4 linked regions of the Homo sapiens genome follow. The protein of the gene in region 2 interacts with the protein of the main gene of each other region in a pairwise test. Each region holds a gene or a part of one and is shown on either strand. Other genes may lie near its edges.

What was found.
Region 1: the proteins of SH3YL1 (region 2) and ZBTB7B interact in binary tests that used the Homo sapiens proteins (3 or more experiments, as listed by UniProt).
Region 3: the proteins of SH3YL1 (region 2) and ERRFI1 interact in a two-hybrid assay, tested with the Homo sapiens proteins (one study listed by BioGRID).
Region 4: the proteins of SH3YL1 (region 2) and GFAP interact in binary tests that used the Homo sapiens proteins (3 or more experiments, as listed by UniProt).

Annotation. Positions count from the first base shown.
Region 1 is NC_000001.11:154,997,993-155,005,801, reverse strand, and holds the start of ZBTB7B (zinc finger and BTB domain-containing protein 7B), read right to left. Parts: upstream 3,001-7,809; 5' UTR 2,960-3,000; coding exon of another isoform or gene 2,859-2,959; intron 1-2,858. UniProt on the Homo sapiens protein: Transcription regulator that acts as a key regulator of lineage commitment of immature T-cell precursors. Exerts distinct biological functions in the mammary epithelial cells and T cells in a tissue-specific manner.
Region 2 is NC_000002.12:260,016-268,020, reverse strand, and holds the start of SH3YL1 (SH3 domain-containing YSC84-like protein 1), read left to right. Parts: upstream 1-3,988; 5' UTR 3,989-4,036; coding exon 4,037-4,037; intron 4,038-5,234; exon of another isoform or gene 5,235-5,820; intron 5,821-6,890; exon of another isoform or gene 6,891-7,936; intron 7,937-8,005. Other genes in the region: ACP1 (low molecular weight phosphotyrosine protein phosphatase), read right to left, coding at 3,014-3,056.
Region 3 is NC_000001.11:8,011,227-8,017,326, forward strand, and holds the end of ERRFI1 (ERBB receptor feedback inhibitor 1), read right to left. Parts: exon of another isoform or gene 4,467-6,100; 5' UTR 4,394-4,466; coding exon 4,269-4,393; intron 4,175-4,268; exon of another isoform or gene 4,159-4,174; coding exon 4,082-4,158; intron 3,171-4,081; coding exon 1,984-3,170; 3' UTR 501-1,983; downstream 1-500.
Region 4 is NC_000017.11:44,912,089-44,920,505, reverse strand, and holds the start of GFAP (glial fibrillary acidic protein), read left to right. Parts: upstream 1-5,005; 5' UTR 5,006-5,019; coding exon 5,020-5,480; intron 5,481-6,417; coding exon 6,418-6,478; intron 6,479-6,682; coding exon 6,683-6,778; intron 6,779-7,075; coding exon 7,076-7,237; intron 7,238-8,417.

The sequences.
Region 1 (7,809 bases), on a different chromosome or scaffold from region 2:
CACGAGTTTACTCAGCACAAGGAGGGGGAAGAGGCCAGGGCGGGCACACCCCATGCCAGGGTCCTATCCATCTGCCTGTCCCCACCTTCCTCCCCCACTGTTCTCTCCCGCCCTAGGCCAAAACAGGCATAGGCCCTAAGGCCTGGTGTCAGGGCAGTCTTAACTCTCAGGAAGGTCAGGGAGCCAAGCGGGGCAGAGGCAGGAAGCCCCGCAGCAGGCCCAGAGGCTTCTGTCAGAGGGCAGTGCCCTGCCTGGAGCCCATTCACTACTCATCTTGGGGCCTTGGTCTTGGGCCAGAAGAATTGGGTCTCTCAGCCATTAAGAAGGGGGCAGTACCAGGCCAAACCTTCTCCATCTGAGCAGTCCCCTGGGCAGTGACTTCTGACCCCAAATGCCCAGTCCTAGGCTGTCCCTCAGTCTGATGCCATCCAGGCAGCCATAGGATCAGGGGCTGGTTCTCTCAGCCTTGGCTTGGAATGGGGGGCTGGCACCCTATCTGACCTACTTCCCTTTCCTCCCCACCTGCTTTCATTTGCTTCTCTCCCCCAGCCTTCACTGTCCCCACCCCAGAGCGCTCCGCCCCCCATGCCTGCTGGGCCCCCTCCCCCACCCTTCCCCAGGGTGCCAAGTGCAGGCACACAAAGGGCCTGATGGTGCATTGTTAGCCCAGCCCCCGCTGCCCGCCGCACCCTCCCTGGGCAGGCACTAGGCCAAGGAGGAGCTGGGGGCCCTGGGTGCCAGGGGGCACCATGGGGAAGAAGAAGGGGACAGCACCTGTCTTCCAGACACTGGGGTCTACATCAGCCAGAACTGAGTAGTGATGAGAGTCCCATTAGAGCAAGCCTGTCTCCTTGACACCTGAGCCTAGTGGGCACTGCCTTCTTTCTTCCCCAGAGCCCCATTCTGGTGGTATTAACCCCTTTTTGACCCCTGTGCCAGGGCTGGGGGTGTGTGGTACCCAAGGGAGGGGACAGTGTCTGGGGGTGCCAGCAGGTTGTGTTGTGCCCACAGCAACCATGTAACAGAGGCACGCTGGGGGAGCTGGGGTCCCTGGGGCCAGGGACAGAGGCACTGACAGAGATTTCTCCTTGTTTCATCAGCTGCTCCAGGGGGAGCCCCCTACCCTTCTCCCCAGTTACCACTAAGGAGGAACACTAACTATCATCCAGACATAGTCACACATATGTCCCTCTCTAGCGCAGCACAACACTCCTTATGCCCACTCTCTCCTCCCCAACCTGATGTCCACTCCATGCCAGCTCTCCCAGCAGTGCCAGGCGGGTACAGGGGTGACCAAACCAGTTGGTGTGTGTGGGGCAGCAGGAGGCAACCCCATAATCCTCCAGGCCTCATCCCCACACTCACACATACTCCCTTAGGGACCAGACAGTTCCCATCCTGCTTTAACCCCTCACAGCCCAATCTGGTTCCCCCGTCCCTGATAAGCGGTCTCCCTCCTCCAGGAATAAGTTGGGGGAAGGGGGAATAGCTGCGCTGACTCATTCCCATTCTCGGCTGCAGCTAGGGGTCTCCAAGGCATTCGGGCGGGGGTCAATTCAAGAACACCCTCCACCTGGCCCGGAAGCCTGGACAGCCTGCCGGTCTCCCCCTCTCCCCAGCACCCACTTCCGGTGTCCCAAACTAGGTCAGCAGCGCTCGTTTCCTGTGGGTCAGCTAGCACCGGCGCCTCTGCCCCTCCCCTGCTCCGGACCCAGGCTCCCCGCCCCCCTGCCCCCCAGGGCGCCCCGAGGTCTCACCATGTCTCAGCCGCCCTTTGATACGTGGGGGTTGTGCGGGGCGGGGGGCAGGGGACCCGCCCTCTCTCTAAACACCAGCAGGGCCGGGGCGCCTGGGCAGGCACGTGTCCGGGCACAACCCGCTGCCCACGCCGCCCCCCCACTCCCGCCCCCACCTCGCTCTGGCCGGGACACGTCGCTCTCTTACTTGGGATGGGGTGGGAGGAGGGAGAGAAAGCTGGAAATTGAAAGCAGCGCCCCCCACCCCTTTGAATGGCAGCCTTCTGCCAGGCGCACTCTGTAGGTTCTACAACAACACAGTAGCGACCCCCACTCTGGGCTGGGGCAGGTGCGCCGGCGCCGGTGGGGGGACGGGTAGTAGGTAGGAGAATTCTTCCTAGTCACCCGCCCTCGCTCTTGGGTTCTGTGGTCATGAGCTGGCGTGGAAAAGGTAGCGGCGGGACTGGAGCCTGAAGGAAGGGAGTGGGATTGAGGGGCAGGGAAGAGAGCGGTCGTTCTATGTCGGTTCAGAGGTTGTTGCTGAGCCCCACTACCGCTGGAGAGAGCGCGGCTCTGGAAGCGCAAGAAACCGAATAGTCCAGCCGGTAACTTTCCCCCAAGCCGCGGCTCCTCCTGCGCCCCCCCAACCCCCATGCAACTGGCCTGGGGCCAATCCACCGCGCCAGGGGGCGCGGGGTGGGGGGGGGGTGCGCGTTGTCCTAGTTAGAGTCCGTCAGCGTTTCCATTCCCTCAACTCAGTCCGGTCTGGGGTCTCCCCCTAAAGTCACGAAGGAGACTGGGGGAACGCTCAGCGTCGCCTCACCCCCTCTCCATCCCGAAGCCGTCTGTCTGTCTGATCCCAGGAGAAGTGCAGATAAACTTTCTGGGGACCCTCCGCCTAGGGTTGGGGGGCATCCGCAGTTCCTTCTCTGTCTTTCATCTCAGTTAAAACCAATTCCAGAGACCCGGGGTGTTGGGAAAGCACAGGGAAGGGGAGTGGTGGGAATGTGATCTGCATGCGTGTGTATCTGGGGGTCCCACTTACAGGACGGACGAAGGACACTGCAGTAGTCTCGAGCCTAGTGAACCCCGAGCCAGGAGACAAAAGTGGGGTACACTCACCTCTCAGCCGTCGGGTCCGCTGGCTGGAGCTGCTGAGGCTCACAGTGTGGGAAGAAGCGCGTCCCCCACCAGGCCCGGGGGCTTGGGGCCCTGCTCCGGTCCTGGTCAGAAGGCCGCGGTCAGTTGCTCGCCGCTCGCTGCTGGGGGGCTCCTCCTCCGCCGCCCTCTGCCTCCTCCTGCCGCCCGCCCCCCCTCGGCCGCCAAGAGCCGTACATTCACCTGGCTCCCACCCGCCCCCCCCTCAGGGCCCGCCTCACCTGTCCTGCTGTCTCACCTGTCCTCCAGCTTGCTTTCCCCCCATCCCTCCCCTCCCTCCCCCCGCCCCTGCCACCCCCCAAACTCCCCCCCCCCAACACTTAGAAACACCCTCTGTCACTTCCTGGTTTTTCACCCGCCCCCCCAGGCCCCCTCCCTCCGCCCAATAAGGACATAAACTTCAACCCCTTCGTCCAGCCAGTCCCTGCAGAGCGCAGATGGGTCCCTCCCTCCTTTTTTGCCCCCTTCTCCAAACTCTTACTTAGCTCTCCTAGCCTTTCCCACCCTCCTCCTTTCCCTCCTTCTTTCCTTCTCTCTGTCTCCCTTCACCTGCCGCGGTCCCTCTCTCCCCCCCCTTTCTCCTGCCCCTATCTCTCCCAGTCCACCTTAACTCAAACTCCGCCCCCGGCCCCCATCCAGCCCTTTGCTGCTGCTCTGCCCGCCCCCTGCACGCCACCGCCCTGTCCGCTCATTGGCCTGAATACCCGCTCATCTCCAGTAGGTCTCGCCTTGCGTTCGTCCAGGGAGGGGGCGGAGCCGAGGGGCTGGCCTGGAACCTGGAGAGGAGGGGGGAGGGGGCAGTGTCCGCAGCGGCCAGGGAATCGAGCACCCCCTACAGGGGCTCCCTCTCCTTCAAGAGGGGCTTCTGTAGGGTCAGGACCTCAGGAGGGAAGGGTATGAGAGGTTAGGGATAGGCTGGGTGGGGGTGAATTGGGGACTTAGGGTCTTGAGGGAGGGGGTCCCGTGAGGGGCTGTAATCAGGTCAGGGACCTAGAAGGGAGGGGGAGGGGGAGCCACCAGGCCTTCGGCTCCGGCCCCTACGCCCCACCCCCTCTCGGAGGGAGCCGGGGAGTTGAGCCTGCGGGCGCCCTGCGTCCCTCCCCACGCGTGACGGTGCCCCGCGGGGAGGGAAGGGCGCCCCAGGCAAGCAGCCTCTGTGCTGTCGCCAGTGCCCGCTGCGGCCTTGGCATTGTCGGAGGGGAGGGGCCCAGTCTGCGAAGGGGGAGGGGGCGCGCCGACGCTTTTGCTCCCCACCTCCATCCCGCGGGTTCCCTAAGTGGAGAAACTGAGTCTCCACCGAGGAGGGATAGCTTGACATGAATTCGCTGAGAGACCCAGGTGGCGAGGGGTGCCTGGATGTTTTGGGATGTGTGGTATGTGTAGGTTTTGGGGAGGACCGGGATAAATACTTAGGAGTCCCCCAACTGAGAAAGGTAGCGGGTGAAGGATGTTTCTGACTGAGCCTGCGGAGCTGCGTACCCCAAAGGGCCCCTCCCACTAGTGTCAAATGGAATCAAATCCGGCTACCTAGGGCCAGGTTTGGCTCCCCTGCGACAAGCCAGGCCGAACCGGGTCGGACTCGCTTTCCCCTCCCAACCCCCCTCCGCAGGGGGCCTCCCTCCCTTTCCAGCAGGTGGCTTCTCGGGACACCAGCTCAACCTGTTGGACCACAATGGGCGGCGCCAGGGGGGCCCTGGCCCTCACCCGGGCTGACCCGGGATCCCCGCGCACGAGGGGCGGAGTCCAGGTCCCTCCCTCCCTCTTTCTCCCTCTCTCCCTCTCCGCGCCGGGCCGTGACTCAGCCTCGGGGCCGCTGCCCTGCGCCCCAGCCAGGGGCGGAAAGTGTGAGGCGCCCCTGAGGGCTCAGGCCAAACCAAACAGCCCCCCACCCCAGACATTATCTCACTGGAGAATTAGGGGGGCTATAGGAAGGAGGAGGTAGCGGCAGGCATGGGGCGCTCTGGCTCGAGTAATCCGCTCCGGGTTTTCCTATCGTCCCTGACCCCCTTGGGTCGCGAGGCTGATCACTGCTCCGGGTTTTCTTCTCAGCCCCGCCGGACAGATCCTGGTCCGGAGGGGCCCGGAGCCGTCCAGGCCGGGGTTTTCCCCTTCCTACTCCAGCCGTCTGGGTCGTGCAGGCCTGGTGAAGGGCTGTGCTAGGGGCTAGGCGGCAGTGCCACAAGTGAAATGGAGAGGGGGCTGCTTTGGGGAGGAAGGAGGATAGCCAAGGAAAGGGGGCGGGGGGCAGGGGGCGGGGGGCGGGGGGGGTGGGAACGTGGCCCGGGGAGGGCAGAGCCAGGGCTTCCAGAGGCAATAGAAGGGCGGGCTCCCTGGCACCAGCCTTTGGGTACAGAAACTCGAAAGGTGCCCAGTGCCTCAGGCTCGCCTCGCCCAACTTCCCCCATGTTTGAGGGTCGCGTTCTGCGTCTGGCTGAACATGACTGATCTTTCTGCGGCTAGATTGCCACTCCTCACCTCATTCCCAATGGTCCTGGAACCCGCAGTTAGTTCCTCAGTGACGCCCACCCTCCCTTGTCTCTCTTTTTCTCCTGGTGCAAATAGCTCCCCTCCTTACTCAGAAATCGGAGCGGGGAACCCCTACTTGAAATTCCCTCTTACCCCAACCCCTAACCACGCCAAACGACTGAAACAGCGGCGGCAGAGAAACGCTGACTGGGGACCCCGCCCCCTCCCATGAAACCCCTGCTGGGCCCCAGGGGCCGGCCGCCCCCGCCCCGCCACTAGGCCCAGACTGGAACTGGGAGCTGGAGGGCAAGTGAGGGGCCTGCAGGGGCCGCCTGGGGATAGGAGAGCGTCCCAGATCCGCATGTTAAGACTTAAATTTTTAGGTGACCAGCTAGACCTTAAATTTGGGGAGAGTAGCACGAGTTGGACAAATACCCAGAGAAGGAAGTGTTTACCCTAAGAGAGGAATGAAAGCCCCGAGTGGGAGGACTGAATACCTGGGGCTGGGGACAGCGACTCGGAATGACGGCCAGGTGCGCGGACTGGCCGGGCCACGTGCGCCGAAGGGTAGAAGCATAGAAGTTAGATGCTTGCAGAACCTGGGGGAATGAGGCCTTCAGGTGTTAAGAAAGGCGAGGCTTTGCCTGGGCGGGGTCCTGCGTGAGTGGGTCTGGGGGCCTGTTTCGGAATGTGGGGGGCTGAGCTGCAAGCGGAGCGTCAGCATGCGCCAGGCGCCCACCTCTTCTCCGCTGCTCCCCCCCATCCTCCGCTGCCTCCGCTTCCCTCGAAAAACCCGCCGCCCAGGAAACCGCTGGGGGCGCTCAGACCGCAGACCCCCCACGCCCCCCGCCCCCCAGCGCTCCCACCGCGACCGCCCAACCCACCTGAAGGGGCCGTGGCCGCCAGGGGTACCCCCCTCCCGCCGACTCCCCCCAACACCTGCGGGTGGCACTATTTATAACTCCGCGCCTATTCCGGGCCTCTGGGTTGGAGCCGGCTGCCGCGCAGCGCTAATCGCCGCCGGGATCTCTGCGCCCCCCAAGGCCGGGGGAGGCAAATTTAGCTTCAGGAAGCTCAGGGGAACAGTTTCCAAAACTCCACGTCCCAGAGAAGGCAAGACAACCCCTCTGCACTCAGCCTCCTTCCGATCAGCCACCAGGAGGCGCAGGTCCCCGGCTTCTCGAACCCAGCCAGCTAGGAGGTTACGGTCGCTTCTTTGAAGCTGGGGTAGGCGAAGGCCTGAGGGCGAATGATGGAAAGGAACTGAGGCCGAAGAATGGCTGGAGGAACGGGTACGCTCCAAGGCTGGCGAACACTCTAGAGTCTGAGAGTAACTGAGAAAGTTGGGTGGAGGGAAATAACTCACATGCAAGACAGATGTAAATATGATGCAAATAAGAGCCTATGCCCATGCCGGGCGCGGTGGCTCTCGCCTGTAATCTCAACACTTTGGGAGGCAGAGGCGGGTGGAACACCTGAGGTCAGGAGTTCGAGACCAGCCTAACCAACATGGTGAAACCCTGTCTCTAGTAAAAATACAAAAATTAGCCAGTCGTGGTGGCACACGCCTGTAGTCCCAGCTACTCAGGAGGCTGAAGCAGAATTGCCTGAACCTGGGAGGCGGAGGTTGCGGTGAGCCGAGATCGCGCCATTGCACTCCAGCCTGGGCAACAAGAGCCAAACCCCGTCTTTAAAAAAAAAAAAAAAAAAAAAAGCCTATGCCCTTGGGGATGGGTCTGCGCTCTGGCGCTGCCAGTGAAATGATTGCCACACACCCCTTTTTGCCGGCCTCTTGGTGTTGGGAAAACGTGGGACATCCCCACCCACCCACCCCTCCCCGCCGCCAGATTATTGCTATGATATCCAGTTTATTGCCTGCCGCTCCTCAGACCCTTGGGCCGTGACCCCTCTCCTCCAACTGTTCCTTGCATGCCAACGAGGGTCCTGTATCCGATGTAATCCGCCGGGAATCCTGGATATCAGGCTTCTCCTCTCGCTGTTGTACTTGAGGGTCACATCCAGCTGGTCCCTCCTGTCTCCATTCCTACTCCACCCATTCCCCCACCCCCTGTGACCATTAGAGGGCACCAGGGCACCGAGGGGTAGGTGAGGTTTTAATGGCAAAGGCCGCAATTACTTTTGCACCAACCTAATATCTTGGTACCCTGTCTCCTTCACCTCCCTCCCACCTTACTCCACTTGAGTTCCTGAGGGAGTAATTTGGACACTCAAAACCTGAGTTGCCCTAGTCGGGGAGAGATACTTGTGGGGGAACAGCCACAGAGTGGGGAGCCATGGGCCAGGAAAGATCTCTTGGCTGTGTGGATTAGGTGAAAGGGCTGCACCTGAAACCTCCAAATGGGCTGAGAACAGGGAGCTTAGGGCTGAGGTGGGAAGTGGCATGGAGCGGGTGCATGGAGGTGGTACCCTCCATGCTTTTGTTTGCATG
Region 2 (8,005 bases):
TTATGTACAGCCCACAGCGGTAAGAATAATTTTTACATTGTTGAGTAGTTGGAAAAAATCTAAAAGTAGAGTACCTTGTGACATGTGAAAATTATACAGAGTTCCATCCAATTCTGATGTCCACAAATGAAGATCCACTAGAACACAGCCAGGTTCATCATATGGATGGCTACTTTGTGCTACACCCTTTCTGTATGTCATGTGAAGCCAATCTAAAATAATTATAATCTGGTTCTTTAAACAAAGAGTTTGCAGACTCCTGCCCTAAAGGACCAGTGTATATAAGGAATTAACTTCTCCCTATACATCTACAATGGAAGCACTGAGAAAACAGGCGCTCAAATTATCTGCTAAATTTTCAGGTATAGATGAGGAATCCTGACTGAGAAAAACTATCTGGCCACTAGGCCCAGCCACTGCAGCTTCCCTGCGGTTCATGACCATGGCCAGTATTCTCCCTTCAAAACTTTTACCTGCTTTCCTCTGGGTTCAGGATGCTTCTCCAAAATATCCTAGGCTTGCTTCCTCACCTCCTTCAAGTCTTTACTCAAAAGTCATCTATCAGGTGGGGCCTTCCCTGACCATCCCACTCAAAACTGCACTCCACTCCCATTCCCCTTTTCTGCTCTATTTTTCTTAATCTTCACATCAACCGATTGAGCACATCAATTAATACTTGCTGGTGACTGAGAGAACGTGAGCTCCAGAGAGGCTGGGATTTTTGTCTGTTGTGTTCACCACACCACTTAGAGGAATGCATGCCATATAGTAGATGCTCAACAACAACAAAAAATCACTGAATTGTATTGAAATACAATAGTCCCCTCTTTTCCAAGGTTTTGCTTTCCATGGTTACCCCATGGTCAGCTTCAGTTGGAAAATATTAAATGAAGAATTCCACAAATAATTCCTAAGTTTTAAATTGTGCACTGTTCTGAGTAGCAGGATAAATTCTCATGCCATCCCATTCCGTCCTGCCCCAGAAGTGAAACACGTCTTTGTCCAGCATATCCATGCTGTCTATCCACCTATTGCCCTCTAGCTTATCAGATCCATTGTGATGCTATCACAGTGCCTGAGTTCGAGTCACCCTTAGTTTACTAATAATGGCCCGAAATCATAAGAGTAGTGAAGCTAGCAATTCAGATACGGCAAAGAGAAGCCATAAGCACTACCCTTAAGTAAAAAGGTGAAAGTTTTTGACTTCTTATGGAAAGAAAAAAAAAACTTATACCGAGGTTACTAAGATCTACAGTACGAACAAATCTTCTATCCATGAAAATGTAAACAAGGAAAAAGAAATTCCTGATCGTCTGCTGTCTTGCCTCAAACTGCAAAAGTTGCGACCACAGTTTTAAATGCTTAGTTAAGGTGGCAACGGTATTACATTTGTGGGTGTAAGAAACGAGCAGACACATGTTCCAATTGACAGCAATTGGGTTTGGTACTACCCACAGTTTCGGGATCCACTGGGGAGTCTTGGAATGTATCCCCTACAGCTAAAGTGGGACTACTGTATATGCAAGGATACACTTCCCCATTAACAGCAACCATGATGCATTATGCCAGCATAATCGACAATACCAACCAAAACTATACAAGGGAATGGAATATTATTTAGTAACCATCCTTAACCAAACTACTGTTTAATAAACTTATTGATTTCATCATTCAGCCTTCAATGAGTCTTAAAAATCAAATGATGCCCACTACCAATGTGAAACAAGGTAAGCCTTCTAATTCGTCTTTCACAGAAGTTAACTTCTACAAAACCTAGTCAGCGTTTATCATATATTGTCCTAAAGCTGAAAACAAAATGAAAAATAAGCCACAGTTATTGCCATCGACAAAATTAAACTCAGCTGGGATTTCAACAGACTATCAAATAATTATAGTAAAATTTGTGTAATAAAAGATGTCGATAAGGAATCACACCTTTTCTGTATTACATCTTTTACTATATTACACAAATTATAGTAAAATTTGTGTAATAAAAGATGTCGATAAGGAAGCAACTCATGATCTGGGAAAGCAAAGGAGGAAATATTTAGGTTTGACTTTATAAAATAAAAAGGCTTTCCAGGCAAAATGCATAATGGGCACCCAGCGATGAAGGCTCAGTAAGCATGTGAAGTGCTACCGAACAACGAAAGGTTCTGGAAGGCAGTGTCCCGAGGGTGTGAGCAGGAAAAGGTACAGGAGATAAAGTGAGGAGTCTGTAAAAATAAACAGAAACTGCAGGAAATGCAAACTCACAGAAGGTTTTAAGTAACCGGACTACTGACAATTTAGGCCTTCCTCTCAGGGTGGAGGCACCGAGGAATATAACCTTGTAGTGCTACACCAAAGGAAGATCCCTGAAGACCAAACGGAAAATAAATTATGTTTGAAGTAAGGCAAGCTAAGTGTTGAAATTCTAGGAGTGAAAATAATTTAAGCTGGAAAGTTCCTGAAAAGCCATTAATAAAATACACTTTCATTTTTCATGGGCCAAAGTTATATAGGGACCTCCAGGTCTCCTTTGCTTGGCTTTTACAATCAAGAAACCCGAAACCGTAAAACTTCATCTCCCTTTAACTCAGATCCCTATCTAAGCATGGGCTAAGGAAACTAGCAAACAAAACAATGTTGTCATAGGACTCAGGAGGCCCCTAAGAGACCACATCAGTCCGACAACCTCCAGGCCTACCTGGGCCCATTGGAGGGGAACGAGAGGGATTCTAGTAGTCGCAAAGAAAGTACCTTGGCTTGTAGGGGCTGTGGCTGCAGATGCCAAGAGCCCCGGATATATGGCAGGCGCGAGGGGACCCAGGTTTAGCGGGCAGGCTGGGCGGGTGCACGGGGCGGATGGGGAACAGGGGCGCTGCGGCACACTCCTAGAACACCCTAGGCCTCCCAGTCCCTGGCCTCCTCCCCCTCATGGTTCCTAGGCCGGCGGCACAACCTACAGCGCACAAGCCCGATCCAACTCTCCAGAGGACGTCAGAACATGAGTAAGTCGGCGCCCTCTTACCCAGACACACAAACAGCACGGACTTGGTAGCCTGTTCCGCCATCTTCCCGCGCGCAGAGGCGCCGAGACACCGCGGCGTTCCGCACGCCGACGCGGCGCAGGCGCACTGCCACCCTCTTGCCCCGCGCGCCTGCGCAGTCCCGCACCAACGCCAACAGGGCAGCGCGTGTGAGAGCCACGCCTGCGCAATCGGCTCCAGTGCGCCTGCGGAGGCGGTCCTATGACGGTAGTAGGACGGGCGGGGAGGGTCCGCGGGTCACCTGCAGGGACTGGGCCGCCGTTCACCTGCAGGGGCGGGGCTGCAGGTTGTCCGGAGGAGGAGGAGCTGCGGGGGTGGGGTCACCTGGAGGGAGTAGGGCCGCGGAAGGCGAGGGGGTGTGTGTGTGTGGTGGCGGGGGTTGGCGGGGGGGAGTCACCTGGAGGGGGCGGGGCTGCGGGTCGCTTGGAGGGGAAGGAGCCGCGGGAGGTAAAGGTTACCTATAGGGGACGGGGCCGCAGGAGAGGGGTACCTGGAGGAGGAAGGGCCGCGGGTCACCTGCAGGGCGGGCTCAGGCCTCGCGGCTCCGCGGGCCGCCCACCTGGGTTGGGGCACAGCGCGAGTCTCGCGCACGTGGCGGGCTGTGGTGCCTGTCGTTCGAGTTCGCATAGAGGGGCTGGGCGGGTCACGCGGGGAACCTGCCTTGAGCCCCGCGGGGTCCACGCCGGACCAGGGCGGCCTTGGGCCTGGGCGCTCCCTGAGACCCCCACCCCCAACACCGTGCTTGGAGCCGCCGCGGGGCTCTGGGCTTTTCGATCTTGAGGACGGGGCGGTTCCGAAGTCCCTGAGGGCGAAGGCCTGAGCGCGGCCCGGCGGGCGCGTGGTTTTTGTCCCGCGAAACGTACACGGCGGGTGTTTTGCGCCGCCTCCTTCGTCACCTGCCGCAGGTACGCCCTCGCTGGGGCCTCCTTGTCCGCGGGGCGGGGCAGCGCGCCTTCCTCTTCCTGGGCAGCCTCGGGACGGGGCGCCGCGGCCGGGCGGGCAGCAGTGAGTACCCGGGGACCCACCTGTCCGGCAGCACCCTCCCCTCTCAAGAGCTGGGCGGTGGTGGGAGGAGGAGGACGGGAAAACCGGCGATGCCTCTGGGGTTTCTAGGTCGCGCGTCTGTTAACCGCAAACCGCCCAAAGTTAAGATAGAGCAGCTTCCAGGACTTTCTTGACCACAGCGATTTTGATTGAAGTTTAGCCACCGTCTTTTCCATTTTTAGAAAAGCTATTCCGAAGTTTGGAATGATGACGATGGTCGTGTTATTTTTAACTTCCTGATATTTGAACGGCGAGGTGTCAGCGACCATCCTTCCGTTCCACAGAAGCGTCTCTGAAGTTTGGGTCGAATGCGCGCGCTTGGAATGTGCGTGGAACCCGCGGCAGGCGCGGGGAGGAGGCCTTGGCTAGGGCGCCGGCGAGGTTCGAGTTTGCCAGCCCCCCAACCTGGAAGAGAAGGGCCAGCCCCTCACACCCGGAAGGGAAGGGCCGGTCCCCCCAACACCTGGCGCCGGGGTCGCGGGGCCACAGGGCGAGCGCGGGGTCGCGGCGAGCACGGGTCCTCTCTGATCGCTGGGCCTTGGCGCTGGCTGCTGAGTTTTTCCTTCTTTAAGGAAGTGTGGAACTGGTCTCAATCGGTTGACCACCTTAAGGAAATAGGATTTACACTGTGGACAGAGATGTGTCCTTTACACTTCATTTGAACCAATATGCCCATGCTCCTGTGGAGGCTGAGTTGGAAAGTGACACGAAGCTGCCCCCCCGCAAGAGAGCAGGTGCTCGGTTTCTCTTCTGCTTACAGGAGATGCATGTCCTGATTTCTTGTTCTCCTAGGTGTTTTTATTGAGATGTAGGGAATATCTGAATTCATAACGACTTAGAAAATCTGTACACACAGTTGAGAGAACAGGTCTCGAGGCTAAGGTGCTGTTTACTCCCGTGGGCTGGCCTGTTATTAAAATACTTGTGCAGCGACTGATGTTTACAAATTACTATGTTGGAGGTTAAAATGATCAAAGTGATAACCTCCATCCTGTCTATCATGTTTGAGGAGAATTGGTTATTTGGTTCACTAATGTTCTGTTTAAAGAAAATTTCTGTAAAACTAGTAAATGTTACCCCTCATCTTTTGTAAGTTAAAAAAAAGTTTAAAATAATGTTTGCTCATCAAAAGTGATTTGATACTTTTGTTCTGTTTAGGAAAACTTTATTCTCAAGAGATTTCTCATTCCGCAGAAATAAGGATCTGGCATGTCAACACAAACATAGGAAGTTGAGGCAGTCAAAGGGAAATAACTGCTACCCTGACTCTGCTGAGAGCCTCACAAGTCCCTGTGCACGCCAGCTTGTTTGCCAGTGAGTGGCGTCATGATAAGACAAAATTCTCTGCTCTGAGACCTAAGCACATGAAGTTTTTAAAAAAATTTTCTCTGAGAAGATCCCATTTTTTACTCTAAAAGATCAGACCAGTGTGGCATGTGTGGAACTGCTCTGTACCAAGATCACACTCTTCAGTTGGAGAAGAGGAAGGGCAGGAATAAATAAAGGGCTTTCCTGTCTCCCGAGGGAGCAGAGAAAGCTTTCGCTGTCCTCTTCCTTCCCCAGCCACAGCCTGGGGTTGGGGGACTGGAAACAAGCTCAGGCTAGCACTTGATGTTCAGACGGTAGTCTGAAAGTTTGACTAGGGAGTTAATGATCTGACCAGAGAGACAGGTTTTTATTTTGAGAACTGACAAGCTTTGTGTCCTTAAAACAAAGGAAGTAGTTAAACCAAGGCCCCAGAAAGGTAAGAATTGACTTAAGAAACAAAGGCCATAGTTGTCAAGCAGTGGAGTTCAAAATGCAGTTTTGTTAATAAAAGTAGCTTAAAGCAACATTTGAAAGCCTCTCTAAAGATTAGATACATACACTTTCTTTTGGCTAAGATTTCTTTAGTTTATTCTAAATATACCTTTAGCAGCATTCAAGTTCCTTTGATCTTAGATGGAATTTTATCAGTTTAATGAGTTAACCTCCATTTCACATAAAGTATAAGGTTTAATAATTTGATTAATATGTAATCAGTAAGAACTTGGAAAACCAAATTTAGTAAGCTTGCTTTCCTGTAAGTATTCCTTTCATAATTAGAGTCCATTGAAGAAAATAATATAAGGGAAGCAAAAGTTTGGGAATCTGAACTCTGGTAAGGAAAGTGGTGGAGAGGGGCCCTTGGGTCTTCTTGCTTTCATTCCTGACCCTCCGTGTACAACTAGATTGGAAACCGTAGTCAGCTTTGTCACCTCAGGTGGCAATTTACTCCGAGTAGGATTCTCATGTCCCTGTTTGTCCCCAGTGACTCTAGCATTGAGTTTATAGAACTGCGATCAATACCTAAAATTATTTCCAGATCTTAAGCTGATTTATGCTTTTGAGGTTTCCAAAGTAAAAATTGTCTTTCCGGTATTTTATAAGACCTTCTAATTTAAAAAAAAAATGTGTTACTATGAAAATTTAAAACATTTTAACTTTTGTTTTAAAGAAAACTTTATTTGAAAGTTTCTTAGCTTGAGGTTTGGCAGCCACTCTTTTTTTAGAAAAAACTTAAATATTTATAGAGATTTTGCCTGATTCAAGGGACTTAAGACGTTTATGAGAGTGCAGATGCTAACCATGATGTGAGGTTTAAGAGGCTTCATTAGTAATGACCTGTGTCTTCATCAGTATGATAGAATGGGACATCAGCACTCTGATCAGGTCATGCTCTATATGCCTTATGGTACAGCAGAGGAAAAATGGGTGAGCCATCATTTGATGCTGAGGATGGGATTTGAGGCTTATGTCTAAATTTTTATTTGCATATTCTTTTTGTTCTGACAGAGAAATTCACTGCATGTAACTATGACCACGCATGATTTTATCAGAAGTTGATTAGAATCTGTAACATTTTCTGTAGTTCAGCTGACACACTGAAGATGTCCTCACTGTGACCAGCCTTGTCAACAGCTGGATCACAGTGACATAAGCTGTGTCTAGGATGAGTCTTGCGGTCTGCAGCCGTGTGAGGCTGCATCTGATTCCCAAGTCCAATGGCTCTCTTCCCGTGTTTACAGATCAGGCCATGACCTTTCCCTACAGCAGGATGTTTGCAAGATTAACTCTCAACTGAGGAATTTGCTTATTTGCTCTAATACTGCTTGGTTGAGAGAGTTCAAAGTAGAAAGTCTTCTGAGGGGATAAGATTCATGTATTATTTACAGTGCTTCAGTTGCATGTATCAGAAAATCTAGTCTAAATTGCTTTAACAGAAAAAGATGTTGCTGGTCCATTTGACGAAGAAGTCCAGAGCGGCTTGTGACTTCAGTCTGGCTTTGCAGAGCCCAGGTGCTCTCTCCACCTTCTGCCAGGTTCCCCTATGAAGGCTTTGCTCTCAGACTCTCCCCTTGTGGAGACAAAAATCCCACAGCAAGTGGAAACAGAAGTGCCTTGGAAAAAGTTATTCTGGCAGCTCCTATACAAGTCCCCCATCAGATGCTGGTATTGGACCAGCTTTGGTTATAAAGCCCTGCTGTGGCACCAAAAGGAATGTCGTCCTGATACAGCAGCCTCGGGTCACCCAATCCACTCCAGATACTATGGCTGCAGCATCAATGTAAGCAGACAAGTTGTGCTGCCTCTGAAATAAAGTAGATGAAATATTCAGCAGCAGAAAGAACAAGTTTCCACTCCAGTGAACTAATTCAAATGTATCCAGCATCTAGATATATGTATAAATGTAATTAAAACATATTGAGCATCTAGAGCATCTCTCCCAAGATAATTACCACCTGATAGTAATGGCTATAAAAGCTAAAAGTGGAATCAGTCTACATGTTTCGCAATAGGAATCAATTGAAGCATACATCAAAATGCAGACAGTAGTATTGGTGAGTATTAATGTTATAGATGCTTTTTATCCTTCATATTTTCATATCTGTACTTTTTCCTGTATTTTA
Region 3 (6,100 bases), on a different chromosome or scaffold from region 2:
GAGCACTCCAGCCCCTGCCTCCATCCAAAGGCTGCCAGGAGCCCATTTGTCCACTGTGGACTTGCCATCTCCATGACAGGCCAAGGCAGGTGCAGATTCCTTGGGTGGCCTTAAGCAAGAAGCAAAGCCTGCCAAAGGGCCCAGAGTAACCGGGACCTCGTCCTAAAAATCAGAATGAGTCAAACCAAGTCTACACATCAGAACTGGTTTCTTCTGTCACGTTCTCCTTGATGTGGACTCCCACCCCCAACGTTGTTTCTGATAGTAACCCCAGAATCCAGTTCTCTTTCAGTTGTTAAAGGTAAAAACAAACAGCTCATTTCCACTGTATACTTTCATAATATGTGAAAAAGATTGCACAAATTATGTTTCATTCTAAAGAATAAGAGTTTCAAGAATACATTAAACTTCAAAGAATCTTCGCTTGTGCTTAAAAATAATGCTGTCAAATTGCTTCATACACTTTATAAGACTTTAGGCAAGAAACATTACTAATGGTATCATAAATAAGTATTATAACTTTATTAAAATGAAAAGACAATATTCAAAATAATGCAACAAAATGAATAAAATCCTTTGTCCAATACTGTACACATAATGCAGAAATCAGTGCATTTTTCTTAAGCATGTTTTAACCTTCATTTAGTTCATACTAAAATATAATAAGCTTTAAATAGCTCAAATAATATTCAGCAGTTTAAACTGTAAACAGCTTGTTTAACTGTTAAGAGAACATTGCAGTAATGTACCTCTGTTAGTGAGCACCTTCTCTTCTGTGCTTATCTCTTCAAGATAAATACATGGAAGGATGTGAAAATCGGAACACCAACTATGTGTCTCACTGCATCTAAGTGAAGCAGCCACAGCTGTGAGAGTTTTCAAAGCAGAAAGATGCTGATGTGACCTCTGGAATTCAGACATACTGAGCTATGGGTCAGAAGTGTTTTACTTAAAAAGCAAACAATCCCCAGGAAATACTGAATAGGAACCAGCAACACAAGGCCAGCTTGTGTTGTATGTTTATTAATACAGTCTAAAAAAAAAAAGCAAAACCACAACACACATCCCCAAACAATAACTCTCAATCACATAGCTAATTGCTTCATTATTTTGTAAAACTGACATCCTAACACTGGCACCTAGAATACTTTTCCATCTGAGTCTAACGTACCCCACTGCCTCTAATACGGCCCGCACTACGATGAGCTACTTCAGTGGGTGGGACCAAGCAGGAACTGTAAGGGAAAATTAGTCACTAGTTCTATTATCGTTTTATTTTTCAAGATGTGTGACAGGTACAGGTGACAATATGGTTGCCAAGTAACCTGCTCTCCCTCCCTCAACAAGACGCAACATGAAACCTGGAAGTATGAGGCCTTGGTATGATTTTTAACCTAAGCAGGTACACCCATGGTAAAGAATGGATACCCTGCCCTCCATGGAAAAGATTGCCTGCAAAAATAAATGGAACAAAATAGAAAAGGCCTAAAAGCCAGAAATCTTCAAACTTACTAAACAAAAATATTTTTTAATGATTCTGATCTAAACAATACTGTATCTTCTTCCATTTGCTCAATTTTCAGTCTATCAGGACTCATTTCTCCAGCTTGAGTTTATTATTCTGAATATATATTACTCTACGATAGTAACTAATTGGTTAACCTGCAGCTATGGTCTATGGTTATACCACAAGTTTATATATAGGTATGTAATGTATGCATATATAAAAAGCTTCCCCATCCTCCCCTCCCCACCATCACATCTTTAAATTATAGACTTGTAAGACTTTTTTCCAACACTAACAAAGTCAGGGTTTCTCAGCATAACAGCATCTCACAACTGCTCTAAACCTTCCACATGAAGACAGAGAGTTCAACTATTTTATTTTGCAATCTAAGGGATTTTTCTCTGCACTTCAATCAAACTGGAAAATTGAGAACCATTTGCTCCTATGTAACCTCTGCTGAACCATGACCCCAAGGTCTAAGGAGAAACCACATAGGATAAATGTTTACGCTTCACGTGGCCACCCAGATCCATTTTTGTTTTTGAGTCTGGCTTTTCTGTGGCTGAAGATATACCGCAGTCAGCAGGTAATGGCTGGATTTGGGCGCCTCCATTTGTTTCTTCTGCTTCCCTAAAAAATTTTTCATATTTGTCCAGGTATGGTGGTCGTTCAGGTAGTAGGTAATAATGTGTTGAACTAACCTTCTTCCCATTTTCAATAATGGGCAGAATGCAAGGAACCTTACTGGCAGATCCTTCGCTGTTCTGTCTTTGCAGTGCTTTGCTGCTGACATACTTGGGATCAGGGGCAAAGCTCTGTGTCGGGGGCATGACCCCATTGAGGTAAGACGGAAGGCTTTTGGGACTCGGTGTGCGCGAGTTACTCGGTGACAAAGGTTCTCTTGGCGGTACTTTGGGAGGCCTGTCTTCATCACTATAGGTGCTCGAAGTAACTTCTGCTGACCATCTTCTATAATCTGGCTTTACTGGTCTAGGAGGTATGGGAACTCTGGGGGGAACCTCAGGTTTGTCTTCATCGGAGTTAGGAGAAGCTCTGTGTATACAACAGTTGGATATCCTTATGGCTGGCTTGTTAAAGGAGCCAGCTGGTCCCGAATGAGACCTTCTTAATCTTCGGTGGGTCTGAGGTGGAGGAGGATTTGGATCTGGGACACCTCCATTTTGGTCAGACACATAGCTGAGATCTGCTGCAGAAACAGCTGGGGTATCAAAATATGCATAGTTGATTTGTCCACACCCACGGAAGCTTCGCCTGCCAGGAACATCATATTTGAAATCAGAAAGTGTAGAGTCTTCTAAAAGGAAGTCTGTATCTGAGCTAGTTAGGAATTCCACCTCACAGTCTGTGTCATCCAGAGAGAGGGCTTCAGAGATTGGCAACGGTGGAAGAGGCCTAGAACCCCGTTCACAAAGAGGGGCACAGGGGAAAAGGGAAGGGGAGTTTTTTATGGGTGTCAGTGGAGGGGTGGAAGCACAAACCCCATTCACTGTGAGTTTCTTAAAACCACATACAACTTGATCCTCTTCATGTGGTCCCAAGTTTTCACTTGGGGGAATAAGAAGAGGGGGCAAGCTGGACTTTTGAGATGGACCATTTTCTGCAAAGCAGTGGCCATTCATCGGAGCAGATTTGGAAGCATGCCCTGGAATGAACGAGAGATATTAATAAAAGATCAACAATCCTCTCTCCACCTGTGTGAGGGAGAGAGCACCCCAGCTACCTATGCTTCCACAGCTTTCTTCCTGAGTGAAACACTTGACTGCTGTCACCCCGAGAACACCCATGCAACCACCACAGGTGTAATTAGAGAGCAGAAGATTCTTAACGCACATGGTGTGGTTCAAAGAACAAACTATCTCCTCTATCTCCCTTGGACATGTGCACAGCGCACACCCACACATCACAGGCAAGTTTTGTGACGTGTGTAAAATTCGCGGAAGATGAATAGCATATAATTTACATGAATACCATACTGTACCAGCCTTGCCATTTAAGACATGCGACCATACTAGGCACGTAGGGTACCAATGAGATAAGACAAAGTCCTTATTGCTGGCACATCATAATATTGTGAGTGAATGGACTTGCCTGCAATGTGTTCAGTTCACACACAGCTCTTGACAAAGATCCAAGGAACAGAATATTCACATTAAAAATACTATTTTTTAAGTTTTGAGGAACATTTATACTATTTTCATCTATTACTGTCAAACATGCATTCGATACTAGTAAGAAAGGTGGGAAATCTCGCCTAAGGTTTCATGAAGTAAAGTATGCATCAGAGCTGGAATGAGAACTAATTCTTGATTTTAGAAGATCCCACGTCCATGAACAGTCCTACTTAGCAATCAGTGACTCAGAATGAAGGCAGTCGAGTACAATAGCTTGAGAAAAACACAGTTATCTTCTGAATCTGTTGCCACTAGGGGTCAGGCTGTTGTTGGAAATAGTTCAGGTTTCCTCATTTAAAAAATAATGCTGGAGGACAAGCTAACCCGAATCCAGACTGTTCTTCTCAAATGCTTACTGTGATCAGATTTTCAGAATACATACCAAGTGGTATTAGGCGCTCCTGAGCAGAAGAGTTCAGACTGTAGGCCATGGTTATCGGGTCAATATTTAAAAAGTTGCTGAAAGGAGAGGAAGCTACTTTGGTCATAAGCGAAGAGCAATCACAGCCTCTCCCATTTTAGTGTCACATATTTATCCAGATTACAGCAGCATTACATCCTCTACTTACTTTTTAAACTCACTGCGACTGCTCCAGTAGGTCTTCCTCATATTCCCCATGGCTCGGCCATTATGTAGAAATCCAGTTTTTAATGGGACTCTGATCTCCTGAGCAGCAACTCCTGCTATTGACATTGTGCCTTATTCTGGGACATCTCCAAACCTGTGAGGCCCAGGCACTTTAAAATCAACCAGTAGCTTTCATTCCCTGGGAGGTAGAAGAGATGAGAGAATAAAGAAAACAATTCAGAAATACCTCCATTAGGACAGTCTAAATTACAGCAAAGCTAACAGAGGATTTGGGGGATGCTGAATAGAAAAAATTAGTTGTAGACTTTCACTTAATTCTCACAGCTCGTGAGGGTACTTATATGTAAACACTAAAAATGATTTTTTGTGTAAATGCTAATCCAAAAGACATGAAATGTTTTAGTGAAATGAGAAATAATCTATTGCCAGCAAAAGCAGACCTCCTACTGCACAGCCTGAGAGTTGCACAACAAATCACACTCACTTGGCAATGCACACAGACCCTCCCCTGACTTATTAAACCAGCCTTCTAAGTTACGGCTGCACTGGGCATGAAGCACCAGTGGATCCTGCTTATTTTTCCCAAGCTAAAAAAGTAATTTCAGAAGCCACTGTATTTTATGCTGTAGAACTAATACTCACTAAAACACAATGCTGAAACTAAGCAAGAGTTTCTACAGTATTGGCACCTGACTACCCCAGGGTCTAGCATTTATCTGGATTTTGTATTTCAGGGTTGGCCATGGGGAGACAAATTCTCCAGTTACTACTTGTTCAAGGAACAAACAGTAATATATGAAGATACTAATTTCCATTATCCTGTAAAAATCAAGTTCTGCAAGATTACTGGCTTCAGTAAAAGCCTGGGACAGCTTCCTCCCTCCCTTTTAAAGACAAGTTAAAGGTACATTCTTTACATCCTCCTTTGTGAAACACCCAGTAACTCATATCTTGCTTAGCTGCAAGGCATGGATAACAAAATAAGTACATTTTTCTTAAATTAGTAGTTCCTCAACTTCAGGACCGCCAATCCCCTTTGTCAGATGTTACAGGTCTGGAGTCCCTATAGCCCCCTTTTCACTTTCCTTTTTTATTATTCGTTATGTGTTAGTCAGCATCAATCTCTGCTGTCTTCAGATAGCCAAGTTTATTTATAAGTTTAGGTTTTTTTCCTTAGGCACCAGGATATTATTTGTCAACTATTGTGTAACACTGACCCCTTTTGGGGGCACGTACATATACACTCTTTAACACGATCTCATTCTCTCACTAAATATTAGTAAGGGATCAGTGCAAATAATATCTGCACAGCTGAGTGCTGGGCACTGTGCAAAGGCTGGGCACTGTGCAAATGTGACACATTTGCTGTGGGGGAGAGGTACACAGGTTTTTTTTTTTGTTTTTTTTTTTGCTCAGCAACTTCAAATCTATTATTTACAAATCTGTCACCTCCTACTAGACTAAGCTCAGGACAGAGGCTGTGTCTCAATCACCTTTTAACAATCAGTACCTGGAACATTAGTAGGTGCTCAGTAAGTGAATGTTTGCTGAATGAATGATTGTATAATACCATCTAATTATCATAATCAGTATCAACTCAATATACACATTGTGTAAGGCACAGGGTTTTTTTTTTTAAAGCTAAAAACTTTTAAAAAATACTCTGCAAGTGTTTATTATTATTTTCCCATTAGAAAGGAACACAGTGATAAGTAATGTTCTACAGGTTCAAGATTTCAGTAACAAAGTAGAGAAGGGAGATCCAATGACTGGTTCTCTGCATTTTACCCTTCCACAGTCAGCTGTTCTACC
Region 4 (8,417 bases), on a different chromosome or scaffold from region 2:
TTCAGCTTTCACTGATTTTATTCTTACAACTACCTGGGGAGCAGGCATGGTTGAATCCCCATTTTACAGACGTGGAAATGAAGACTCAGGCAAGGTTCTTAAAGTCATCAAAGACTGCACAGCTACTGAGTGGCCAAGGCTTTGCTCCCTCTCCTTGAGGACAGTGCTATAGCAGTCAGAGTCAAGTCTAGAGAACAAAGCGGGTGATGCCCCTGGGTGAAACAAATTTGGGTTTTAGAAAACTCCGCCTACAGCTTTCTCCCTGCCTCTAAACTGCGGTGGCTGTGGCGGCTCACACCTGACCAGCTGAGCACCACCATCTAGTGGCCACCAGGCTCAGTTCCCTTCCTCGGGACAGGCCATGGATGAACAGACTTGCTGGTCACCAAGGCTCAGCCAGAGAGACTGTGTTCTCTTCACCCAGCTTGCTGACCACCACGCTGTGCCAGGCACTGGGCCAGGGCCAAGGGCCCAAGCAGAACCAGCGGGCAGCAGTCATGTGGCAAAACTGCCGTTTGAATTAGAGGCTGGCCTATTTGGCAAACACCAGGCACCCTGTGTGTGGGTTGATGCCACATGTGGGGCTGGTCTGTCCCAGGAGGCATCTGGGCTTTACCCTGTAAGCAGAAGGTCATCTAGCAGATTCTGATGTGAGGGAGGGGCTCAGGAAGGTCATCTTGTCCTCACCTCAGCTTGAAGCAGGCACAGCTTGGCTGTAGGCTCCTTGAAAGGGCATCCAGACTTCTCTCTCCATGGCTGGTATTATCCTGCTGTGCAGTCTAGAAGGCAGTCTAGGGTTTGGCCAGAGGCTTTAGAAGTTGGGGCCTTCCATTTGGGGAAGCAGGAGAGGAGGCACCCCAGAGAATGGGGCCTGAGCCAGGCTAGGAGGATGGGGGGTTTGGGTGGAGGCTGGACGGGCTGAGGGCCTACCCTTCTCTGTTTGCTGTGTCTGCCTGCAGCAGATGCAAATCAGAGTGTGGTTTAGAACAGAGAGAGGACAGTCACAGCGGCTCACATCTGTAATCCTAGCACTTTGGGAGGCTGAGGCCAGAGGATCACTTGAGGCCAGGAGTTCAAGACCAGCCTGGGCAACATAACAAGACTTGGTCTCTGAAAAAAAAAATTATCTGGGCACACTGTCATGTGCCTGTAGTCCCAGCTCCTTGGCAGGCTGTGGCAGGAGGATTGCTTGAGCTCAGAAGTCTGAGGCTGCAGTGGGCTATGATGGTGCCACTGCACTCTGGCCCTGGGTGGCAAAGTGAGACTTTGTCTCTAAAAAAAAAAAAAGAGAGAGAGAGAACATACTGTCATACTGTCCACCACTAGGGCTTGGTACATGAATGCATATAGTGGAAAATCATGCAGCTGTTAAATGATGATGCAGACAAATATTTATTGATGTGGAAAGATGTTCACAACATATTGTTGAGTGAGAAAAGCAAATTACAAAATAATTTGTACGGCATGAGCCCATTTTGAAAAAAATGATTATATATGTGTGGAAAAAATCTGGTAGTGTTTATCTCCAGGTGGCAAAATGATGGCTAATTACATTTTTTTGTATTGCTTATCTATAGTTTCTGACCTTTCTACAATGAATATTTAATTAAAAAGATAATGAAAGTTTGGAACACAACCACGACCAAATCTGTCTGTATCTTTGGTTCTCTGTGCAGACACCTTTAGATAGTTAAGGGTTGGCCAGGCGTGATCTATATGTACCGGTTGTATAGGTCATGCCTGTAATCCCAGCACTTTGGGAGGAAGAGGTGGGAGGGTCACTTGAGCCCAACAGTTCGAGACCAGCCTGGGCAACATGGCGAAACCTTGTCTCTAGTAAAATACAAAAATGAGCTGGGCATGGTGGTGTATCTCTGTGGTCCCAGCTACTAGAGAGGCTGAGGTGGGTGGATCGCTTGAGCCAGGGAGATTGAGGCTGTAGTGAGCTGTGATAGCACCACTTCACTCTAGCCTGGGCAACAGAGCAAGACCCTGTCTCAAAAAACAAAAACAAGATAGTTAAGGGTTGAGTGTGAGGAAAGGTCTGAGGGTTGAGAAGGGGTGGAGGATGCACCTGGGCCTATGACAGGGGTCCACGGAGGTGGCTGATGGCAAAAGCTGGGGGACTCCAACTGCTGATGCTGAAACAAGCTTGTGTCTCACATACACAGGGACAGTTCACTGAGCTTCAATGACAGGCACCTCCTGCTCATCACATCTTTTCTCTCTAGGACAGCTTTGCCCTTATTTTAACTAGACTTCCCTTGAACCAAAAGGGAAGGCTACATGCTGTGACTTGCTGGGCAGCCTGGAAAGGCGGGCCACTCCTAGCCACAGAGATGAGACAGAGTTCAGACAAGAGCTTATCCCCAGTCTTCCTTTTCTATTTTGTTTATTTTATTTTATTTTTTTATTTATTGAGACAGAGTCTCTGTCACCCAGGCTGGGGTGCAGTGATGCGACATTGGCTTACTGCAGTCTCCACCTCCTGGGCTCAGGTGATCCTCCCACCTCAGCCTCCCGAATAGCTGGGATCACAGTAGTGCACCACCATACCTGGCTAATTTTTTTGTATTTTTTGTACAGACAAAATTTCACCACATTGCCCAGGCTGGTCTCGAACTCCTGGACTCAAGCGATCCGCCCACCTCAGCCTCCCAAAGTGCTCGGATTACAGGCATGAGCCACTATGCCCAGCCTTGCTCTTCCTTTAAAGCCTCCTGTCCTTCCCCAGGTCCCCAGTTCATAGCAGGATCAAAGGTCACTGGGCGCTCACCCCGTCTTCAAGATGCTCTTTCCTATGTCACTGCTTACGCCCAGGTCAGATGTGACTAGAGCCTAAGGAGCTCCCACCTCCCTCTCTGTGCTGGGACTCACAGAGGGAGACCTCAGGAGGCAGTCTGTCCATCACATGTCCAAATGCAGAGCATACCCTGGGCTGGGCGCAGTGGCGCACAACTGTAATTCCAGCACTTTGGGAGGCTGATGTGGAAGGATCACTTGAGCCCAGAAGTTCTAGACCAGCCTGGGCAACATGGCAAGACCCTATCTCTACAAAAAAAGTTAAAAAATCAGCCACGTGTGGTGACACACACCTGTAGTCCCAGCTATTCAGGAGGCTGAGGTGAGGGGATCACTTAAGGCTGGGAGGTTGAGGCTGCAGTGAGTCGTGGTTGCGCCACTGCACTCCAGCCTGGGCAACAGTGAGACCCTGTCTCAAAAGACAAAAAAAAAAAAAAAAAAAAAAAGAACATATCCTGGTGTGGAGTAGGGGACGCTGCTCTGACAGAGGCTCGGGGGCCTGAGCTGGCTCTGTGAGCTGGGGAGGAGGCAGACAGCCAGGCCTTGTCTGCAAGCAGACCTGGCAGCATTGGGCTGGCCGCCCCCCAGGGCCTCCTCTTCATGCCCAGTGAATGACTCACCTTGGCACAGACACAATGTTCGGGGTGGGCACAGTGCCTGCTTCCCGCCGCACCCCAGCCCCCCTCAAATGCCTTCCGAGAAGCCCATTGAGCAGGGGGCTTGCATTGCACCCCAGCCTGACAGCCTGGCATCTTGGGATAAAAGCAGCACAGCCCCCTAGGGGCTGCCCTTGCTGTGTGGCGCCACCGGCGGTGGAGAACAAGGCTCTATTCAGCCTGTGCCCAGGAAAGGGGATCAGGGGATGCCCAGGCATGGACAGTGGGTGGCAGGGGGGGAGAGGAGGGCTGTCTGCTTCCCAGAAGTCCAAGGACACAAATGGGTGAGGGGACTGGGCAGGGTTCTGACCCTGTGGGACCAGAGTGGAGGGCGTAGATGGACCTGAAGTCTCCAGGGACAACAGGGCCCAGGTCTCAGGCTCCTAGTTGGGCCCAGTGGCTCCAGCGTTTCCAAACCCATCCATCCCCAGAGGTTCTTCCCATCTCTCCAGGCTGATGTGTGGGAACTCGAGGAAATAAATCTCCAGTGGGAGACGGAGGGGTGGCCAGGGAAACGGGGCGCTGCAGGAATAAAGACGAGCCAGCACAGCCAGCTCATGTGTAACGGCTTTGTGGAGCTGTCAAGGCCTGGTCTCTGGGAGAGAGGCACAGGGAGGCCAGACAAGGAAGGGGTGACCTGGAGGGACAGATCCAGGGGCTAAAGTCCTGATAAGGCAAGAGAGTGCCGGCCCCCTCTTGCCCTATCAGGACCTCCACTGCCACATAGAGGCCATGATTGACCCTTAGACAAAGGGCTGGTGTCCAATCCCAGCCCCCAGCCCCAGAACTCCAGGGAATGAATGGGCAGAGAGCAGGAATGTGGGACATCTGTGTTCAAGGGAAGGACTCCAGGAGTCTGCTGGGAATGAGGCCTAGTAGGAAATGAGGTGGCCCTTGAGGGTACAGAACAGGTTCATTCTTCGCCAAATTCCCAGCACCTTGCAGGCACTTACAGCTGAGTGAGATAATGCCTGGGTTATGAAATCAAAAAGTTGGAAAGCAGGTCAGAGGTCATCTGGTACAGCCCTTCCTTCCCTTTTTTTTTTTTTTTTTTGTGAGACAAGGTCTCTCTCTGTTGCCCAGGCTGGAGTGGCGCAAACACAGCTCACTGCAGCCTCAACCTACTGGGCTCAAGCAATCCTCCAGCCTCAGCCTCCCAAAGTGCTGGGATTACAAGCATGAGCCACCCCACTCAGCCCTTTCCTTCCTTTTTAATTGATGCATAATAATTGTAAGTATTCATCATGGTCCAACCAACCCTTTCTTGACCCACCTTCCTAGAGAGAGGGTCCTCTTGCTTCAGCGGTCAGGGCCCCAGACCCATGGTCTGGCTCCAGGTACCACCTGCCTCATGCAGGAGTTGGCGTGCCCAGGAAGCTCTGCCTCTGGGCACAGTGACCTCAGTGGGGTGAGGGGAGCTCTCCCCATAGCTGGGCTGCGGCCCAACCCCACCCCCTCAGGCTATGCCAGGGGGTGTTGCCAGGGGCACCCGGGCATCGCCAGTCTAGCCCACTCCTTCATAAAGCCCTCGCATCCCAGGAGCGAGCAGAGCCAGAGCAGGATGGAGAGGAGACGCATCACCTCCGCTGCTCGCCGCTCCTACGTCTCCTCAGGGGAGATGATGGTGGGGGGCCTGGCTCCTGGCCGCCGTCTGGGTCCTGGCACCCGCCTCTCCCTGGCTCGAATGCCCCCTCCACTCCCGACCCGGGTGGATTTCTCCCTGGCTGGGGCACTCAATGCTGGCTTCAAGGAGACCCGGGCCAGTGAGCGGGCAGAGATGATGGAGCTCAATGACCGCTTTGCCAGCTACATCGAGAAGGTTCGCTTCCTGGAACAGCAAAACAAGGCGCTGGCTGCTGAGCTGAACCAGCTGCGGGCCAAGGAGCCCACCAAGCTGGCAGACGTCTACCAGGCTGAGCTGCGAGAGCTGCGGCTGCGGCTCGATCAACTCACCGCCAACAGCGCCCGGCTGGAGGTTGAGAGGGACAATCTGGCACAGGACCTGGCCACTGTGAGGCAGAAGTGAGGAGGGGATGGGGAAGGGGGGCCTTGTGAGCAGAAGGGGCTGAATCCCCAAGAAGGAGTGCCCGAGAAGTCTCAGGGAGGGGCCGAACCTCCCTGCTCCCTGGGCCTCCCTACCTCTTGATGGGGCACTATCCTTGCCCCCCAACATGATGGGAGGGACCAGAAACAGGCCCAGGGCCCCGGGGATCTGATGCCCGCATGCCTTCTGCCAGGAGTCCAGGGTCCCCTCAGCACCTCCCTACTGGGGAAAGCAGTGCAGGAGCAGCGGGGCCCCTGTGTTTCATTCATGGCTGGGCTTTGTGACTGTGGGCAGCGAGCTCACCTATTCTGAGCCTGTGTCCATATAAAGGAGGAGTTGGAAGCGGAGAAGGTTGATGTCCATGAGGGAGATTGGATTCTGGGGTGAAGAAAGTGAGGGAAAGAGCAGGCAGGTCTGGGCGCAAAGCACAGGTGACTGCCTGCCACCAGCTTGTGACCCCCATCAAGTTACTTTGACTTGCACAGCTGTGAAGCGGTGGTCATAATAAAATTCATTTCAAAAGGTGGTTACCTGGGATCAGAGGAATCCCCAGGGGCATGGCGCTTCACTGAGCTGACAGGACATGCATGTGTGCCTTCAAGTGCAGGAGGACATGTGCGTGTGTGTGTGTGTGTGTGCAACAGTGAGTGTATGCTTGTGGATGCGCCTGTGTGAGCAGAAGCAGGTGCACCAACCCTGATAAGGCACCTTAGTAATGAGTTAAGGCAAAAGCCCACATCTGCTCATCCTCCAGACAAGTCCTCTGTCTAAGGCCCCCCAACCCTTAATCCTCCTGCTGCTCTACTGGTCCTGGGTGGGGGTGGTCTCTGTGACAGCTGCCTCAAGGGAGACTGAGGCAGGTATTCAAGTGTCCTCAGAAGAGCCTGGACCCAGGAATGTGTCCCCCCACTCCAGGCTCCAGGATGAAACCAACCTGAGGCTGGAAGCCGAGAACAACCTGGCTGCCTATAGACAGGTCAGGGAGGTGGAGGGGAGGGGCAGGGGAGGGAGGAAAGGATTGATGGCCACCCACCCAAACACAGCCCCCAAGCTCAGCCCGCCAGAGCAATGTGCTGCTCCCCACTGCCCCAGAAGGAGGGGTAAGGCAAGGCTGAGGAATGGGGAGAAGGAGCCTGGGGCCCCAGTGGCCCTCTACTCCTCACCCCTCCTGCCACTCCAGGAAGCAGATGAAGCCACCCTGGCCCGTCTGGATCTGGAGAGGAAGATTGAGTCGCTGGAGGAGGAGATCCGGTTCTTGAGGAAGATCCACGAGGAGGTGAGGCCAGGGCAGAGGGAGGAAAGCTCAACACAGAGATTGCAACTGAGAGAGGGAGAGACAGAGACAGAGAAGCTGAGACTGAGAGAGACACTCAGAGAGAGGAGAGAAACAGAGATTGGCAGGTAGAGACAGGAAATGAAAGACAAACAGAAAGACACTAAGGGAGACGGAAAGAGACAAGAGAGCATTCGAACTCCTGGCCGAGGGGCAGGCAGAAGAGGACACAATGGCGTGGGGAACCCCAGCTGTGGCCTGTACCCTGAGCCCTGGTACCGCTTCTCTCACCCTGGTCAGGAGGTTCGGGAACTCCAGGAGCAGCTGGCCCGACAGCAGGTCCATGTGGAGCTTGACGTGGCCAAGCCAGACCTCACCGCAGCCCTGAAAGAGATCCGCACGCAGTATGAGGCAATGGCGTCCAGCAACATGCATGAAGCCGAAGAGTGGTACCGCTCCAAGGTAGCCCTGCCTGTGGGCCAGCCTGCCTCCTCCAGGCAGCCCTTCTTGCTCTGTACAAGAGAATGGGGGAAGGAGGGTGGAGGAAGCTGGGAGAATATCCTCTCCAGGTGACTGACTTTCACCAGAGAAGTGAGATGGCTTGCCCAGGGTCACACAGGCACTATTGCTTTCAAAAGTACCCATTATTATTACTGCTACTATTGCTATTATTAGTAGTAGCTGATACTGTTCTGTTCTAAGCCCTGTGCTTTTCATGGATTACCTTACTATGAAGTAGGTGCTGTTCTTTGACAGATGAGAGAGCCGAAGTCCAGAGAGGTTAACTAATTTGCTCAAAGTCACACAGCTCCTAAGTGGTAGAGTTGGATTTCCAACTCTAGCACATCTCACTTGGGAGCCTGCATTCCATGCCTCTGCCAGTCTGTTTTGGGTTACTGAGCCTCTACCATATGCCAGGCACCCCCCAGGACACAGAGAGGTGTCTGACCTGGAAGGTGTGATATTGACGTGCACCCAAACATAGTGCCCGTAGAGAACACCACAGCTCAGAGCTTATATGTAGTGTGGGAGCCAGGAAAGACACTGTAGAGGGGGCATTTGGGCTAGGCAGGACAGGCACGCTGTGGACAGGAAGAGAAGAAGGGAGGGCCATTCCTAGTGGAGGACAGAGCCTGGAGGCAGAAAAGCACAGAGAGGCAGGGCCCCAAGATGCTAGCCTAGCCAGGGCACCTAGCTGAGGAGTGTGAGTGGCAGAAGCCACTGGTGTCTGAGCAGGGTGAGGGCCCGATGGGGCTGGGAGGACCTCCCTGCAGGCAGGGGAGAAAGGGCTATTAGAACCCAGGGTGAGGCCAGGCGAGGTGGCTCACACCTGTAATCCCAGCACTTTGGGAGGCCGAGGCATGCGGATCACCTGAGGTCAGCAGTTCAAGACTAGCCTGGTCAACATGGTGAAACCCCGTCTCTACTAAAAATACAAAATCAGCCGGGTGTAGTGGCGCATGCCTGTAATCCCAGCTACTCAGGTGGCTGGGGCAGGAGAATTGCTTGAACCTGGGAGGCAGAGGTTGCAGTGACCCGGGATTGTGCCACTGACTTCCAACCTGGGCGACAAGAGCAAGACTCTGTCTCAAAATAAAACAAAAAAAACAAAAAAACAAAAACACACAAAACACCCAGGCCT